2 separate regions of the Homo sapiens genome follow, and region 2 is linked to region 1. A link means that fine-mapping ties the variant in region 1 to the expression of a gene that starts in the linked region. Tissue or cell type: whole blood. Region 1 holds a variant in brackets; the other region holds the start of a gene. All regions are shown on one strand. Distances are between the middles of the regions.

Evidence for each region. PIP is the estimated chance that this variant, and not a neighbour inherited with it, causes the effect.
Region 2: GIPC3 starts here. The variant in region 1 is fine-mapped to the expression of GIPC3 in whole blood (INTERVAL, PIP 0.95).

What each region holds. Positions count from the first base shown.
Region 1 is chr19:3,659,016-3,667,082 of GRCh38, forward strand. PIP5K1C (phosphatidylinositol-4-phosphate 5-kinase type 1 gamma) reads right to left here. Exons shown (of 18, transcript NM_012398.3): 3 at 5,807-5,899; 4 at 2,856-2,986; 5 at 1,951-2,068. Among named protein-coding and RNA genes, the nearest start is that of CACTIN, 36 kb to the left of the region's middle. RefSeq lists an enhancer at 6,252-7,082 and a silencer at 7,012-7,121. The variant C/CG (reference allele first, on the strand shown) is at 4,206.
Region 2 is chr19:3,581,659-3,589,721 of GRCh38, forward strand. GIPC3 (GIPC PDZ domain containing family member 3) reads left to right here and starts at 3,820. Exons shown (of 6, transcript NM_133261.3): 1 at 3,820-4,164; 2 at 4,837-5,022; 3 at 5,156-5,336; 4 at 7,785-7,897. The coding sequence starts at 3,940.

The DNA of each region.
Region 1 (8,067 bases):
TCCCACCTCCGCCTTCTCCTTCCTGGCTGTCCTGAGCTGTGGGCCTTCCTGGAGCTACCCCCCTTACCAGGGGGGACTGTGACCTCAGCTGTCCAATCAGAGAAGCACCGGCAACCTCGAGTCCCCTCCGAACCCTACCTGTCCCCACTCAAGCTCAGGGGCCCTGTGGACAGCAACACGCACACTAGCCCGTCCTCCCGCTGTGGCACACGGCCACACTCACACCACAGCCTGGACAGAGGCTAGGGGGCTGCCGCCTGCTCAGCACCGGAGGCCCCCAAGAGAATTCTCACACTCCTGAGATGAGCAGAAGGATTCGGGGGTCACCAACACCGGGCTGGCTCCCCAGATGCTGTGGGTGCACACCTGGCCTAAGGCCCTGGAATGCGATCTTATCGGGTTCTAGGTGAGACCCAGATGGCCCCAGATCGGCTTTTATCCGTCCACTCCTGCTAATGGACACGGGTGCTGTCTCTCTGCTACGAGCCAGGCTGCTGCCTTCTGTTCCTGGCCGCCTCACACGGTAGCGTCCAGGTCACCCGAGGGCCATTTCTAGGCAAAAACCCCAGCTGTGTTTTCACTCCCCACTGCCCTGCCAAGCTCAGGCAAACGCTGGGACACTGAAGTCCGGAGGCTGGGCCTTGGCGACACGACCCGGAGCATGGTGACTCCCGGGCACCTGAACAGGCTGGAGTTCTCGGGGCGGGGGAGGGGGGGGTGTCACACGTACCCCTGGCTGGAGCACATGCTAGTTCTCCCTGGAAGAGCGCAGCCTCGGGCGCTTCCTACAGACTGAGATAAACCAAACGCACGCACAGTCAGCAACCACCAAAGAAAGGCACAAGGAACCGACCACCGCGGGTGAGGGCAGGATCGGAGAACCACAGGCTCCCGGCCCCGGGGACCGTGCTGTCGTGACAACCAGAACGCCAACCGCACTTGTCTACAGAGTTCCAGTCTTCCCTGATACAAAGTTCTCGGGATGACCAGGCAGGCTTGGGAAAAGGCCACCCGGAGCTTTTAGAAGTGGTGATGGCGCAGGTTGGATGCCGGGGCTCACGCCTGGAATCCCAGCACTTCGGGAGGCTGAGGCGGTAGCTCACGCCTCTAATCCCAGCACTACGGGAGGCTGAGACAGGCAGATCACGAGGTCAGGAGATCGAGACCATCCTGGCTGACACGGTGAAACCCCGTCTCTACTAAAAATACAAAAAATTAGCCGGGCGTGGTGGCAGGCACCTGTAGTCCCAGCTACTCGGGAAGCTGAGGCAGGAGAATGGCGTGAACCCAGGAGGCGGAGCTTACAGTGAGCCGAGATCGCACCACTGCACTCCAGCCTGGGCGACAGAGCGAGACTCTGTCTCGAAAAAAAAAAAAGGGGGTGCTGGCGCTGATGAGCTCCAGGGCCACTGTGGGGAGCACCACCCTCCAAACACCTCTTTTAGGAGCCCGGATAATGGGCTGCTAGGTCAAAGGGGTTGGCCTAGATTTTGACTTTGCTAACCTGAAACAATAAAGCCATGGCTAGAGCTAGGAGGTCCGACTCTACGCTGGTCCCCAGTGGCACCCACGTCCCAGTGCCTTGTTCTAACCCTTAAGTCTGAAAATGGGTCAGTCACTTTGGCACCAGGCTGCAGAAGACTATACCAACTGTTTGGTGAGTGGACACCCTCGCCTGCTCTGATGACAAGGCCCACATGGTGAGGAATGGAGGCTCCCAGCCAACGCCAGCCAGGACGGAGTCCTGCAGCTGCCAGTGATGTGAGCTTGGAGGCCGATCTCTCCTGCTTTCCCGGTGAGTCTCACAGGAGACTCCGGCCCTGAACCTGACCATAACCCTACACGAGGAACCCAGGGAGGCTGCCCCCAAATGCCTGACCCACAGACCCTCCGAGACCCTGAACATGTTCTGTTTCAAGCCTGGAAGCCCGTAACAGCAAATATGCTTACCAAGTAATCATCTGGCCGGATCCCAAAGAGCTCCCGGAAGTAGCGGAAGGCGACAGGTGCATAGGTCTTGAAGCGGAAGTCCTGGAAGTGGTGGGCGGGGGTGAGGTTGCTGCCTTCGCTGTGGAGGAAGGACGGGAGGAAACCTGTGAGGGGTGGTGGGCACCTCTCCCCCACCCCCGCCATGGTCCCTCCTAGTGCCTCTAGCAGCTGAGCCTCTAGCGGCTCAGCTCCAAGACTTCCTTGAAACGGCCCAATCCCACAAGCAACAGGGGGCTCCCGATGGGACTGTCCCCCAGTAACCACCCTCTCTTCTTTCATTAACAACGGGGCCCACAGTGTTGGCCAGGCACATGGCCGCCAAGAACAGGACCATGCCGCCCCAGCCTCTTGCAGCTAGGTGTGCTCACGTGACTGCACTCAGCCAATGACACGAGTGGAGCAGAAACACTGGTCATGTCCGAAAGGGAAGGGCTGTTGTTCTCCTTCTGTTGCCTCCTGTGGCTGGAATGCAGCCGTGATGGCAGGAGCTTTGGCAGCCACCTGGGACCACTGGTCACAGAGCTGTATATTGAGGATGGCGGTGTGGGGTGACCAGAAGGATCCCAGGACCCCAACACCATGGAACCTCCTGACCAGCCCTGCACTGCCCACTGGTTATTTGTAGATTAGAAAAGAGCTAACTTCTATCTTTTCTTTTTCCTGTTCTTAAACTGCCTTTACATTGGGTCTCTGATTCAGCAGCAAACAAACGTCCTGACGGACAGAGGGCCAGAGCTCAAGGCCAAGGAGGCGCCAGGAGGGGCCAGGTGCTGCTTTCAGCAGAGAAGGGCGCTCAGGACAGGCCACTCCGCCTCAGAGCCACGTGTGTGCTGGGTGAGCCCTGAGGCTCCGGGGGCCCGGCCCACCTGGGGAAGAAGATGCTCTCCACCACGTAGAAGTCCTGCATGAGCACGTCGCGTTCGGGCTTGGAGCTCAGGTGGCCCACGGTGTAGCCGATGCCCAGCTGGATGGCACCCTTCAGGGTGGAGGAGGTGGTCTGCAGGGAGACCAGAGTGTCAGGGCCCCCGGCTGCTCCCCACGCTGCCCTGCACCCCCTGTGTGCACCGGGGGGTGGAGATCGTGACCAGCTGCAGCTTGGGACCCGGCACCTGCCAACCCCCTCCTGGTGGTCCCCGGGGCTGCCTGTCCTGCGGCTGCTGAGCTGTCGACATCAGGCCGGGGGATGAAGCCACCCTCCCTCGGGCCACACAGCCAGGACAGGGCTCGGCTGCAACTGCCGCACCACGTCACTCAGCCCTCCCAGTCCTGTTGGCTAGCTAGGTTCTAAAGGTTCTCCCATTTTGAAACAGCTCCAACTTAGCAAAAGGGTCGATTCACTGTCAAGAGTTTGTTTTTAGGGGGTACCATTTACAGCGAGATGCCCAGATCACTTTCACATCTGCAGACGCAGGTTCCCGTTAGCTGCTTTCTATGTAACGCACGTGGTCACACTGGGCAACCCACATGGCCGCTATGTGCCTCAGTTTCCCTGCCTGTAGACAGGGATGGGCACAATGGTTCTGGCCCTCTTGCGGACGTGGTGTCAGCTGCTGTTATTATTTTTATTTGTTTATTTTTTGAGACAGAGTCTTGCTCTGTCGCCCAGGCTGGAGTGCAGTGGCGCAATCTCAGCTCACTGCAACCTCCACCTCCCAGGTTCAAGTGATTCTCCTGCCTCAGCTTCCTGAGTAGCTGGGATTATAGGTGCGCGCCGTCACGCCTGGCTAATTTTTGTATTTTTAGTAGAGACGGGGTTTCACCATGTTGGCCAGGCTGGTCTCGAACTCCTGACCTCAGCTAATCCACCTGCCTGGGCCTCCCAAAATGCTGCGATTGCACGTGTGAGCCAGCACGCCGGCCCCGTTATTATTTTTTGAGACAGAGTCTTGCTCTACTGCCCAGGCTGGAATGCAGTGGTGCGATCTTGGATCACTGCAACCTCCGCCTCCTGGGTTCAAGCTATTCTCCCGCCTCAGCCTCCCAAGAGCTGGGATTACAGGCACGCACCAGCACACCCGGCTAATTATTTTTTTGTATTTTTAGTACAGACAAGGTTGCGCCATGTTGCCCAGGCTGGTCTCCAACTCCTGACCTCTGGTGATCCTCCCGCCTCGGCCTCCCAAAGTGCTAGGATTCCAGGAGTGAGCCTCCGCGCCCGGCCGGCTGCTGTTATTTTTGCCATTGGCATCGTTTGCATTATTCTCACTGTGTGCTCT[C/CG]GCGCCATGTTCACTTTAGCCCTGGGAAGCCGGCTCATACCTCCGCTCTCTAATTCCGGTCTCCAGTGCTCCTGTCGCAGGTGCGAGGTGGCAGGGAGGGAGGTCGGGAGTTGGGAGTTGGTTTCTGCCACTGCCCAGTTTCGGCCTGTCTCCCTCCTAAGCCACACTCTGGGTGGTGGGGGGTCTGGCCTGTATGTTCACCTCCCCGAGATGCCACGGACAGAACAGACATGTGCCCAAAGATAACATACAAACGGCCCTGAAGCCCGCAAAGACGCTCCATGCCACTGGGCACCAAGGGAAAGCACATCAAACCACAGGGGGGCCACGCACCTGGAATCCCGGCCAGTCGGGAGGCCGGGGTGGGAGGATCCCCTGAGCCTGGGAGTTCAAGACCAGCCTGGGCAACATGGTGAAACCCCTGTCTCTACCAAAACAAACAAAAAGACACCTCGAAGAGACACCACCTCACACCCATGAGGACGCCAGAATCAGAGACAACAATCACGAGTGCTGGTGAGGACACGGGGACGCTGGGCCTCATTCACTGTTGCTGGGTGTGAAAACGGTACCGCTGCTATGGAGAACAGTTTGCGAGTTTCTCAAAAGATGACACCGAGTTACACGTGACTTGGCAATTCCACTCCTGGGTGTCTGCCCGAGACAAACGAACACATGTATCCACACAGACTCACACACACGTGTCCTCAGCAGCACAATTCACAATGGCCAGGAGTGTGAAGCACCCGAGCGTCCATGACGCAGCAAAGGACAAGTGCAGCACGGGCGCCCCACGCACCAGAACACGACTCAGCCATGAACAGGAGCAAGGCTCTGACACGGGCCCCAGTGCGAATGAACCCTGAGGACGCTACACTCAGTGAGAGACGCCAGACACAGAAAGCCACACAGTGTGTGATTCCACTTCTATGACACGTCCAGGACAGGCTGATCCACAGACGCAGGAAAGGGATGTGGGTGCCAGGGCTGGGAGTCGGGATGGGGGTGACTGCTAACAGGGACAGAGTTGCTATTTGAGCTGATGCAATGTTCTGGAATTAGAGGTGACGGCTGCACAACTCTGCATATGTACTAAAAGTCATTTACTGCACACTTTAAAGGCTGAATTGTACAGTATATGAATCACATCTCAGTAAAACGGTTACTTTTGAAAAAACAGGCCCTAGGTGGGGGTGGGAACAGAGTGGGGGTCAGGCTTCCTACCAACACGGTGTGAGCCAGGCCAGCCTCAGAGTGTCCCATCCACTGCCCGAGGTGGTGGTGGGGTCCATAACCCCTCTCCCTCACCAGGGCCGAGAGCCCAGGCTCTGCCCGAGGTTTCAGGGACTCAGAGCCGGGCAGGCGTTGCAGCCAGGCTGAGCCACAGAACATGCTGCCCGGCCGCCCGGCAAGGACAGCAAACAGTGGGGCCTCATGCAGGACTGAGGACTCCAGCCTCTGCCTCCACACAGCCCACACCTGTCCCTGGGCAGACCCTGGTTTGTGTCGGGGGCGATAGGCCCCATCCATGCTACCAGTGGGATCCCCCTCCCCTCTGCTCTGTCCCGCTCCCTCCAGCCAGCTAAGGGGAGCCGAGGAACCTTCTTGTAGGTGGTTTCGCCGGATGCGTCCACACCTCGATGGCCCAACTTCTTCCCATGGCCAGGGCCCGGCTGTGCCGTCATGGACAGAACCTGGGAAGAGGAAGCAGGAAGCGTTAACTCCCTAAGGAGCACGCCCACCGGGACAGGGCACGCTCTGAAACCCTGGGAAGAAAGGTTTAGTCGTTGGGCCCAGCAGGGGTGCACAGGGCAGGGGGCAGGTCCAGGCGACTCCGGGGTGCAGCAGGAGGCCCCTCACCCGTGGGCGCCTGGCGGGCTGGCTGGGGCCCCTCAGTGTCCCACACTGGACACCCAGAAGCGCTCACTCCAAGGTGGAGACCTCTGCCTCCTCAGGAAGGGCAAGAGGATTGGGCAGCTCCAGCCCTCTAATTCCAGGGTCTCCCCCAGGTGCTGTGGACACTGGGGCTGGACCGTTCTTTGGGGTGGGGCCACCCTGGGCACAGCAGGGTGCTGAGCAGCATTCCTGGCCTCCACCCACTCCATGCCAGGAGCACCTCCCAGTTGTGGCAACCACAGATGTCCCCACACAACTCTGCAAATGTACTAAAAGTCACTCACTGCACACTTCAGAGAGTACAGTATGCAAATCACATCTCAGTAAAGTGGGTATTTTTTAAAAAAACAGGACTGAGGTGGGGGTGGGAACAGAGCGGGGGTCAGGCTTCCTGCCAACACGGTGTGAGCCAGGCCAGCCTCAGAGCATCTCACCCACCGCCTGAGGTGGTGGTGGGAGTCGTAACTCCTCTCCCTCACCAGGGCCCCTAACTGTGAGACCGCTGGGATGGAAGGATTGAAAAGACCACCTTGTCCCTGAGGGAGATGGTCTCACTGGCCAGGGTCAGGCCCGGCTCCTGCAAGCTGTCGGGCAGCGCGGGTGTCCCAGCAGATGGGACCGCCGACCCCAGGGGGCCTCAGCTTGTTGCCCTCGAGGGAGGATGTGAGGAGGGGCCTTGGGAGCCTGAAGGGACACAGAGGCCAACCAAGGAGAACAGCCCCGCCTGGCACCGTCATTTAAGGAGCGCCACTGCGTTTGCTAGGAGACCCCATGGACCCTCCACTGGCCAGACCCCATCCCACCGCTATCAGCCCCAGGGACACGCCTGCAGCCCTGACCCCTGCCCCTGCCCTCCCTCCACAGCCGACGCTGCTCAGCCATGTTCCCTGCATTCTCCCAGGTGGCCGCCAGGGGGCAGGCTCTCCCCAGGAATTCACCCCGCCACCCGGGCCACCCTCCACCCGCGCCACCCTCCACACTGCCCCCACGCCGGGGGACTCTGAGGAAGGATCCCAGGGTCCCAGGCCTGGTGGACAAAGCCCTCCAAGCTCTGGCTACGGACGCAGGGCCAAGGGTGGCCCAGGTGGGACAGGTGCCTTGGGGACTGCTCCTGTGAATGGGGCTCATGGACAGGTGCCCTGAGGACTGCATGCGGGAAGACGGGAGATGCAGCAGCTCGGGTGCCCTCAGAGGACGGCCCACCCCACTGCGCCCACTGGGGCTGGGAAGAAGGCCACTCGGCGCCACGGGGCTGGCAGAAGCTGCAAAGGCAGGGCCAACGTGCAGAGAAAGCTCTCGGGAGGAGACGGGCAGCAATGACAGGACCCATGTACATGCAGATGTGCACACACACAGACAAATATGCACACAGGCAAACACACGTGCAGACGTGCACACAGGCAAACGTGTACATACGCACGCAGGCAAACAGGCACACAGGCAAACACACATGCACTCAGGCAAACATGAACACAGGCAAACACGTGCACACACGCACGTAGGCAAATGAACACAGGCAAACACGTGCACACATGCACGCAAACATGCACACACACAAACGTGCACACACACAGGCAAACATCCACACAAGCAAAAATAGATGCACACACGCACGCAGGCAAACATGCACACACACAAACGTGCACACACGCACGCAGGCAAACATGCACACACACAAACGTGCACACACGCACGCAGGCAAACATGCACACATAGGCTGCACACAGCCTCACTGTGCACTACGCCTGTGTGGCTCACAGACACTGAGGGCGTGGGTGCAGCTGGTAGCCTCGGGCATCGCCCTCTGGGCAGCGTCTAACCCTCCAGCCAGGTCTTCCATTCCTGCCCCCAGTCCCCCGGCGAGAGCTGCTCTCTCCCCACCGCCCACCCCCCAGAATCCAGGCTCCACGTGGCCTGGAACCCAGAGAAGCCCTTCCTGCCCCTGCAGCCCTGACCAGGCACCCCT
Region 2 (8,063 bases), 77 kb before region 1:
GGAGTGCAATGGCTGGATCTCAGGTCACTGCAACCTCCACCTCCCGGGTTGAAGCGATTCTCCCACGTAGCTGGGATTACAGGCACTCACCATCAAGCCTGGCTAATTTTTGTATTTTGAGTAGAGATGGGGCTTCACCATGTTGCCCAGGCTGATCTCAAACTCCTGACCTCAAGTGATCAACCCACCTCAGCCTCCCAAAGTGCTGGAATTACAGGCATGAGCCACCATACCCAGTCAATTTATTGGTATTTGTGAGATGGGGTCTCACTATGTTGCCCAGACTGGTCTTGAACTACCGGGTTCAAGCGATCCATCTGGGCCAGCCTCTCAAAACGCTAGGATTACAGGCATAAGCCACTGCACCCAGCTGTTTCTTTGTGGTTGAGACAGGATCTTGCTCTGTCACCCAGGCTGAAGTGCAGAGATGCCATCACAGCTCACTGCAGCCTATACCTCCTGGGTTCAAGCAATCTTCCCATCTCAGCTTCCCAAGTAGCTGGGACTACAGGTGTGTGCCACCACACCCCGCTAATTTTGTATTTTTTGTAGAGATGGGGTCTCACCTTATTCCTCAGGCTGGTCTCAAACTCCTGGGCTCAAGTGATCCTCCCGCCTCGGCCTCCCAAAGTGCTGGGATCACAGTCAAGAGCCACCTCACCACACCCAGTTTTTGGTGCTTTGTTACAGCCATCATGGGCGAGTCAGACAACCTGATACTGCCAACCCCCCTCACTCCCCACCCCAGTTTCACCCTGTCCTGGCACAGGTACCACCACCTTAAATTTAGAGTTTCTCATTTCTAGGCAGGCCTGGAAAATAGCATTTTGCAGCAGTTTTTTATTAAAAAAAATTTCAGTATACAATTCAGTAGGTTTTGGTACATTCAAAAAGCTGTGTGGGCTGGGCACAGTGGCTCACGCCTGTAATTCCAGCAGTTTGGGAGACCGAGGCAGGCAGATCACTTGAGACCAAGAGTTCCAGACCAGCCTGGCCAACATAGTGAAACCCGGTCTCTACTAAAAATACAAAAATAGCCAGGGATGGTGGTGCATGCCTGTAATTCCAGCTACTTGGGAGACTGAGGCAGGTGAATCCCTCTCTCTCTCTCTTTTTTTTTTTTTGAGGCGGAGTCACGCTCTTGTCTGTCCCAGGCTGGAGTGCAGTGGCGCGATCTTGGCTCACTGCAACCTCCGCCTCCCGGGTTCAAGTGATTCTCCTGTCTCAGCCTTCCAAGTAGCTGGGATTACAGGCACATGACACCATACTCAGCTAATTTAATTTTTGTATTTTTAGTAGAGATGGGGTTTCATCATGTTGGCCAGGATGGTCTTGATCTCTTGACCTTGTGATCTGCCTTCCTTGGCCTCCCCAAGTGCTGGGATTACAGGGGTGAGCCACCAGACCTGGCCTTTTTTTTTTTTTTTTTTTTTTGAGACAGTCTCACTCTGTTGTCCAGGCTGGAGTGCAGTGGCATGATCTTGGCTCACTGCAACCTCCGCCTCCCAGGTTGGAGCAATTCTGCCTCAGCCTCCCGAGTAACTGGGACTACAGGTGTGCGCCACCACACCTGGCTAATTTTTGTGTTTTTAGTAGAGATGGGGTTTCACTGCGTTGTCCAGGCTGGTCTCGAACTCCTGACCTCAAGCAATCCGCCTGCCTCAGCCTCCCAAAGTGCTGGATTACAGGCATGAGCCACCGTGCCCGGCCTTACATAAAATTTCTTACCTCGTCCAAACCCTCCTGCCACTTTCTTTTCTCTCCCCATGTTCAGTTTGTGAGGCTCCTCCTGGGCGGAGGCTGTGACTGGCTCTGCTGTAGGGCCCGCCACTGCAGGCAGGATGGCTGTTTATTGAGCCGACATTCCTGGGTAGGAATCTGATGGATACGTAGGTGTTTCTGACATTGCACTCCAGCGGATTTTTACCAACGCCTCCTGGTGCCTGGGGTCTCCTCCTTCATCTGTGACCTGGACATCCGTTCATTCCTCACCAAAGATCACTGGGCACCTGCTGTATGCCAGGCACTGTGCCCTGGACACTGGGCATGGGGACAGAGCAGGGGAACAGCCCCCACCCTCCTGGAGCTGACATTCCTCCAGTCCTGGGGACAAACAGGACAAAAGATGAAATGAAATATCAGCAGGGGGCTGGGGCTCAAGCCTGTAATCCCAACATTTTGGGAGGCTGAGGCGGGAGGATTCCTTGAGGTCAGGAGTTCGAGACCATCCTGGCCAACATGGTGAAACCCCCGTCTCTACTAAAAATACAAAAAAAATTAGCTGGGCATGGTGGCAGGTGCCTGTAATCCCAACTAATCAGGAGGCTGAGGCAGAAGAATCGCTTGAACCCGGGAGGCAGAGGTTGCAGTGAGCCGAGATCGTGCCACTGCACTCCAGCCTTGGCAAGAGAGAGAGACTCCGTCTCAAAAAATAAAATAAAATAAAATATCTGATATGTCAGATGGTAGCTTTAAATGCTGAAGAGAAGCTGGGCACAGTGGCTCACATCTGTAATCCTAGCACTTTGGGAGGCCAAGGCTGAAGGATGGCCTGAACCTCCTGGTCTTGAGTTTGAGACCAGCCTGGGCAACACAGTGAGATCCCAACTGTACAAAAAATTAATCATGTTTCTAAATTAAATTTTAAAAAACTGAATGCGGCCGGGTGCGGTGGTTCACGCCTGTAATCCCAGCACTTTGGGAGGCCAAGGCAGGTGGATCACCTGAGGTCAGGGGTTCGAGACAAGCCTGACCAACATGGTGAAACCCTGTCTCTACTAAAAAATACAAAAATTAGCCAGGCATGGTGGTGTGCGCCTATAATCCCAGCTACTAGGGGGGCTGAGGCAGGAGAATCGCTTGAACCCAGGAGGTGGAGGTTGCAGTGAGCCGAGATCACGCCATTGCACTCCAGCCTGGGCGACAGAGCTAGACTCCGTCTCCAAAATCAAACAAACAAACCAAAGGCTGGGCGTGGTGGCTCATGCCTGTAATCCCAGCTTTTTTGGAGGCTAAGGTGGGTGGATTCCTGAGGTCAGGAGTTCAAGACCATCCTGGCCAACATGGTGAAACCTCATCTCTATTAAAAATACAAAAAAATTAGCCGGGCATGGTGGTATATGCCTGTAATCCCAGCTACTGGGGAGGCCGAGGCATGAGAATTGCTTGAACCTGGTGGGCAGAGGTTGCAGTGAGCTGAGATCGTGCCACTGAACTCCAAACTGGGTGACAGAGCGAGACTCCAGCTCAAAATAAATAAATAAATAAAAATAATAAAATAAAATAAAACAATGACCTCGCCTAGCAGAGGGTGAGTGCTCCAGCACCCTCAGCTGTCCCTGTCCTTTTTTTTTTTTTTTTTTTTTTTTTTGCGACGGAGTCTCGCTTTGTTGCCCAGGCTGGAGTGTAATGGCGCCATCTCAGCTCACTGCCACCTCCGCCTCCCGGGTTCAAGAGATCTCAGCCTCCCGAGTAGCTGGGATTACAGGCGCCCGCCACCACGTCCGGCTGATTTTTGTATTTTTGGTAGAGACGGGGTTTCACCATGTTGGCCAGGCTAGTCTTGAACTCCTGACCTCAGGTCATCTGCCCGCTTCGGCCTCCCAAAGTGCTGGAATTACAGACGTGAGCCACCGCTCCAGGCCTGTCCCTGTCCTTATTTGTGGTCCCTGTTCTTCCAGGGTCCTGAGCTCAGGCCCCCCCGGACTGCGGGTATCCCCGGGGAGGGCACAGCTGGCCCTGGCAGGGCCCGGACACCTGGGGCCCGACCCACCCCTGCGCACCCCGCGGTGTCGCCTTCCCGGGAGGCTCGGGTTCCCAGATCCCCTTACCCGGGCGTCTCGGCTGTCGCGCCCTGGGCCGGGGGAGGGGAGGCTGCAGGAAGCGGCGGATCCGGCGGCGGCGGCGAGGGCCCGGGTGGGTGGCCGAACTTCTCCCGCCATGGAGGGAGCAGCGGCCCGGGAGGCCCGGGGGACCGAGACCCCGCGCGCGTCTGCGCCCCCGCCCGCGCCCTCGGAGCCCCCGGCCGCGCCCCGCGCCCGCCCGCGCCTCGTCTTCCGCACGCAGCTGGCGCACGGGAGCCCCACGGGCAAGATCGAGGGCTTCACCAACGTCCGCGAGCTGTACGCCAAGATCGCCGAAGCCTTCGGGATCGCGCCCACCGAGGTAAGGAGCCCGGACACCGGCGCCCAAGACCACCCGCCTGATGGGGTGAGGGGTAGGGAGCTTGGACCCTGGACGGGAGACCCCAGATCCCCGGATCCCAGACGTCGGGGTGGCCGCCTAATCGCCGGATCTCAGAGACCCAGCCCTCAGATCCCGGGGTGCCACACTCCCAGGGGCCCCCTTTGCACGCTCTGCGCAAAAGATGGGCAGGTCTTAGGACTAGCGGACCCCTAGATATTCCAGAAAATCCTCTGCGCAGACCTAGCTTGGAGCGGACCCCAGCCCTCGGGGAAGCGCCTCTGTGCTTCCTGGGCGTAGCTGGGGTCTGGGGTTCCAGATGGCCCCCTTAGGGATGGGAAGTTTGAGGCCGCCGTGGGGTTGGGGGGTTCCTGGGCGTTTTTCCAATCCGGGTTCGTTTGGTTTGCAGCCCCCAGGGGGCGCCAGCAGATTAAACCTGGAGGTCTGGGGGCTGGAGGTCCCGGGGTATGGAGAGGGGTCTCCACCTGCTGGAAGTCTCCTTCTCCCTCCTCTCTCTGTTCTGGGGGTCCCACGCCCTGCCCTTTCCCATGGGCTGGGATCCTGGTCGCTGGGGGCAGGGGCCTGCGCAGACAGGGTGGCTGCGTGGGGGGATGCATGCCCTGGCTAACTCTAGGCTCCTTCTCCCCCGGGAAGATTTTATTCTGCACCCTCAACAGCCACAAAGTGGACATGCAGAAGCTCCTGGGGGGTCAGATAGGCCTGGAGGACTTCATCTTTGCCCACGTGCGAGGCGAGACCAAGGAGGTGGAGGTCACTAAGACAGAGGATGCTCTGGGGCTGACCATCACGGACAACGGGGCTGGCTACGCCTTCATCAAGGTGCCCGGGAGGGGGTGGGCGGGTGGCTTCCTGGGGTCCAGCAACTGCCCCCCCCACTCTGGGTCGACGTGGGTTCTGCGGATTGGAGGCGGGTGGCTGGGGTTGCCCTGCCAGCGACGCTGGATCCCTGCAGAGAATCAAGGAAGGCAGTATCATCAACCGGATCGAGGCAGTGTGCGTGGGTGACAGCATCGAAGCCATCAACGACCACTCCATTGTGGGCTGCCGCCACTACGAGGTGGCCAAGATGCTCCGGGAGCTGCCCAAGTCCCAGCCCTTCACCCTGCGCCTGGTGCAGCCCAAGAGGGCCTTCGGTGAGGCGGGTGGGCTGGCGGGAGCTCTTCCCGAAGTGCGTTCTACGGATGCCTGGGGTGGAGGAGGGTCGGGGATGGGACGGGCTGGAAGGTTCTAGGTGCACCCGCTGCGTGCCAAGGAGCTCCTGGCAGGGTATCAGAAACTCGTAGGTAGTTTCTATTAATAGATTGTTATGGAGTCAGCCTGTGGGGGAGGGGTGGGGGAGAGACTGGGTAAAGTGGAGTTGGAGGAGGACGCGTCCAGAACCACTTTGGAGCCAGGCTGGGAGACTTGTTTTTGTTTGTTTGTTTGTTTGTTTGTTTTTGAGACGGAGTCTCACTCTGTTGCCTGGGCTGGAGTGCAATGGCGCGATCTCAGCTCACTGCAATCTCCACCTCCCGGGTTCAAGCGATTCTCCTGCCTCAGCCTCCCGAGTAGCTGGGACTACAGGCACCCACCATTGCGCCTGGCTAATTTTTGTATTTTTAGTAGAGACGGGGTTTCACCATCTTGACCAGTCTGGTCTCGAACTTCTGACCTCAAGTGCTCCACCCGCCTCAGTCTCCCAAAATGCTAGGATTATAGGCGTGAGCCACCGCGCGCAGCCTGGGAACTTTTAAAGCAGTGCTTTGAGGTCATGGTGGATTGTAGAGAATGAGAATATGAGAAAAAAGTTTTCTTTCTTTTCTTTTTTTTTTCCTTTCTTTTTTCTTTTCTTTTCTTTTTTTTTTTTTGAGACGGAGTCTAGCTCTGTCGCCCAGACTGCAGTGCAGTGGCTAGATTTCAGCTCACTGCAAGCTCCGCCTCCCGGGTTCACACCATTCTCCTGCCTCAGCCTCCCGAGTAGCTGGGACTACAGGCGCCCGCCACCACACCCGGCTAATTTTTTGTATTTTAGTAGAGATGAGGTTTTACCGTGTTAGCCAGGACGGTCTCGATCTCCTGACCTCGTGATCCGCCCACCTCGGCCTCCCAAAGTGCTGCGATTACAGGTGTGAGCCACCGCGCCTGGCCGTGCCAGCTAATTTTTAATTTTTTTCTTTTTTTGAGACGGAGTTTTGCTCTTGTTGCCCAGGCTGGAGTGCAATGGTGTGATCTCGGCTCACCACAACCTCTGCCTCCCAGGTTCAAGTGATTCTCCTGCCTCAGCCTCCCAACTAGCTGGGATTACAGGCATGTGCCACCATGCCTGGCTAATTTTGTATTTTTAGTAGAGATGGGGTTTCTCCATGTTGGCAGGCTGGTCTCGAACTCCCGACCTCAGGTGATCTGCCCGCCTCGGCCTCCGAAAGTGCTGGAATTACAGGCATGAGCCACTGCACCCTGCCCATTTTTTTTCATAACTAGACTTTCTCAATGAAGAAAACAGTGTATTGATTTACACACTAGCACATTCTCCTCATGTAGCCATGGGTTGGCCCTTTGGATAGCGTTGTTCTATAGAACAGAGACAGAGATTCTAGAAGTGCCCCAGCACACATGGAGAGACGTCCCAGGGAGAGTGAGCTGTATGGGGTTCTAGAATCTGCCCTGCCGTGGCTGTGAACTCCAAAAGCCATGCCTAAAAATAGAGTTTAGGCCGGGCGTGGTGGCTCACACCTGTAATCCCAGCACTTTGAGAGGCCAAGGCAGGTGGATCACCTGAGGTCAGGTGATCCATCGTATCAAAAAAAAAAAAAAAAAAACCTGGCTGGGTGCAGTGGCTCAAGCCTGTAATCCCAGTACTTTGGAAGGCCAAGGCGGGTGCATCACGAGGTCAGGAGTTCGAGACCAGCCTGGCCAATATGGTGAAACCCTGTCTCTACTAAAAATACAAAAAATTAGCTGGGCATGGTGGCAGGTGCCTGTAATCCCAGCTACTCGAGAGGCTGAGGCAGGAGAATCGCTTGAACCTGGGAGGTGGAGGCTGCAGTAAGCCGAGATCGTGCCATTGCACTCTAGCCTGGGTGACAGAGCAAGACAACATCTCAAAAAAAAAAAAAAAAATCAAGCTTAGTCTGAGACTAAACCCAGCTCTAGAGCCCAGGCCAGCTCTCAGACCAAGCCCTGCTCTTAAGCCCAGGCCAGCTCTGAGACTAAGTGTGTTTCTAGCACCTCAGTCCTGACACTAAGCCGGGTTCTGGAACCCAGACAAGAACATATCTAGATTGAGGATCCTACCACAAGGAGGGTCCCAAGCAGTCCCTTCTAGAGAAAGTCGCTAGAAGAGGGAGAGTGAGGGCATGGAACTGGGATGTTAGTTCTAAACCTGCTCCATTACAACACCTCATTCTGGACTTGTGATTTAGTTTGCTGGGGATGCGAAGTGTGGAATCTCGAATAGGTCTCTGGAGACTTGCCGTACAGATGTAAGGAGGACTTTGAAGGGGAGGAAGATTCTAGAAAGGCTCGGCTGTTGGCCTCCCAGGGTTTACAAAGATGTGGCTCCACCCAGAACCCATGGCCATCCCTCACTCTGTTCCCTCCAGATATGATTGGCCAGAGAAGTCGGTCCAGCAAATGTCCAGTAGAGGCGAAAGTGACCAGCGGGAGGGAGACCCTGCGGCTTCGTTCTGGGGGGGCTGCCACAGTGGAGGAAGCGGTGAGTGAAGGGGAGGGGCTCTCCCCAGGCTTCTGCACCTTCAGCTCCTCCACTGAGTCAGTGCGGTCTTGGGTAAGAACTTCTCCTCGGAGCCTCAGTTTCTCTGCCTGCAAAATGGGTCCTCATTGAAAAGTGGGGCAATGATGTTGGTACCAGCACTACTGAC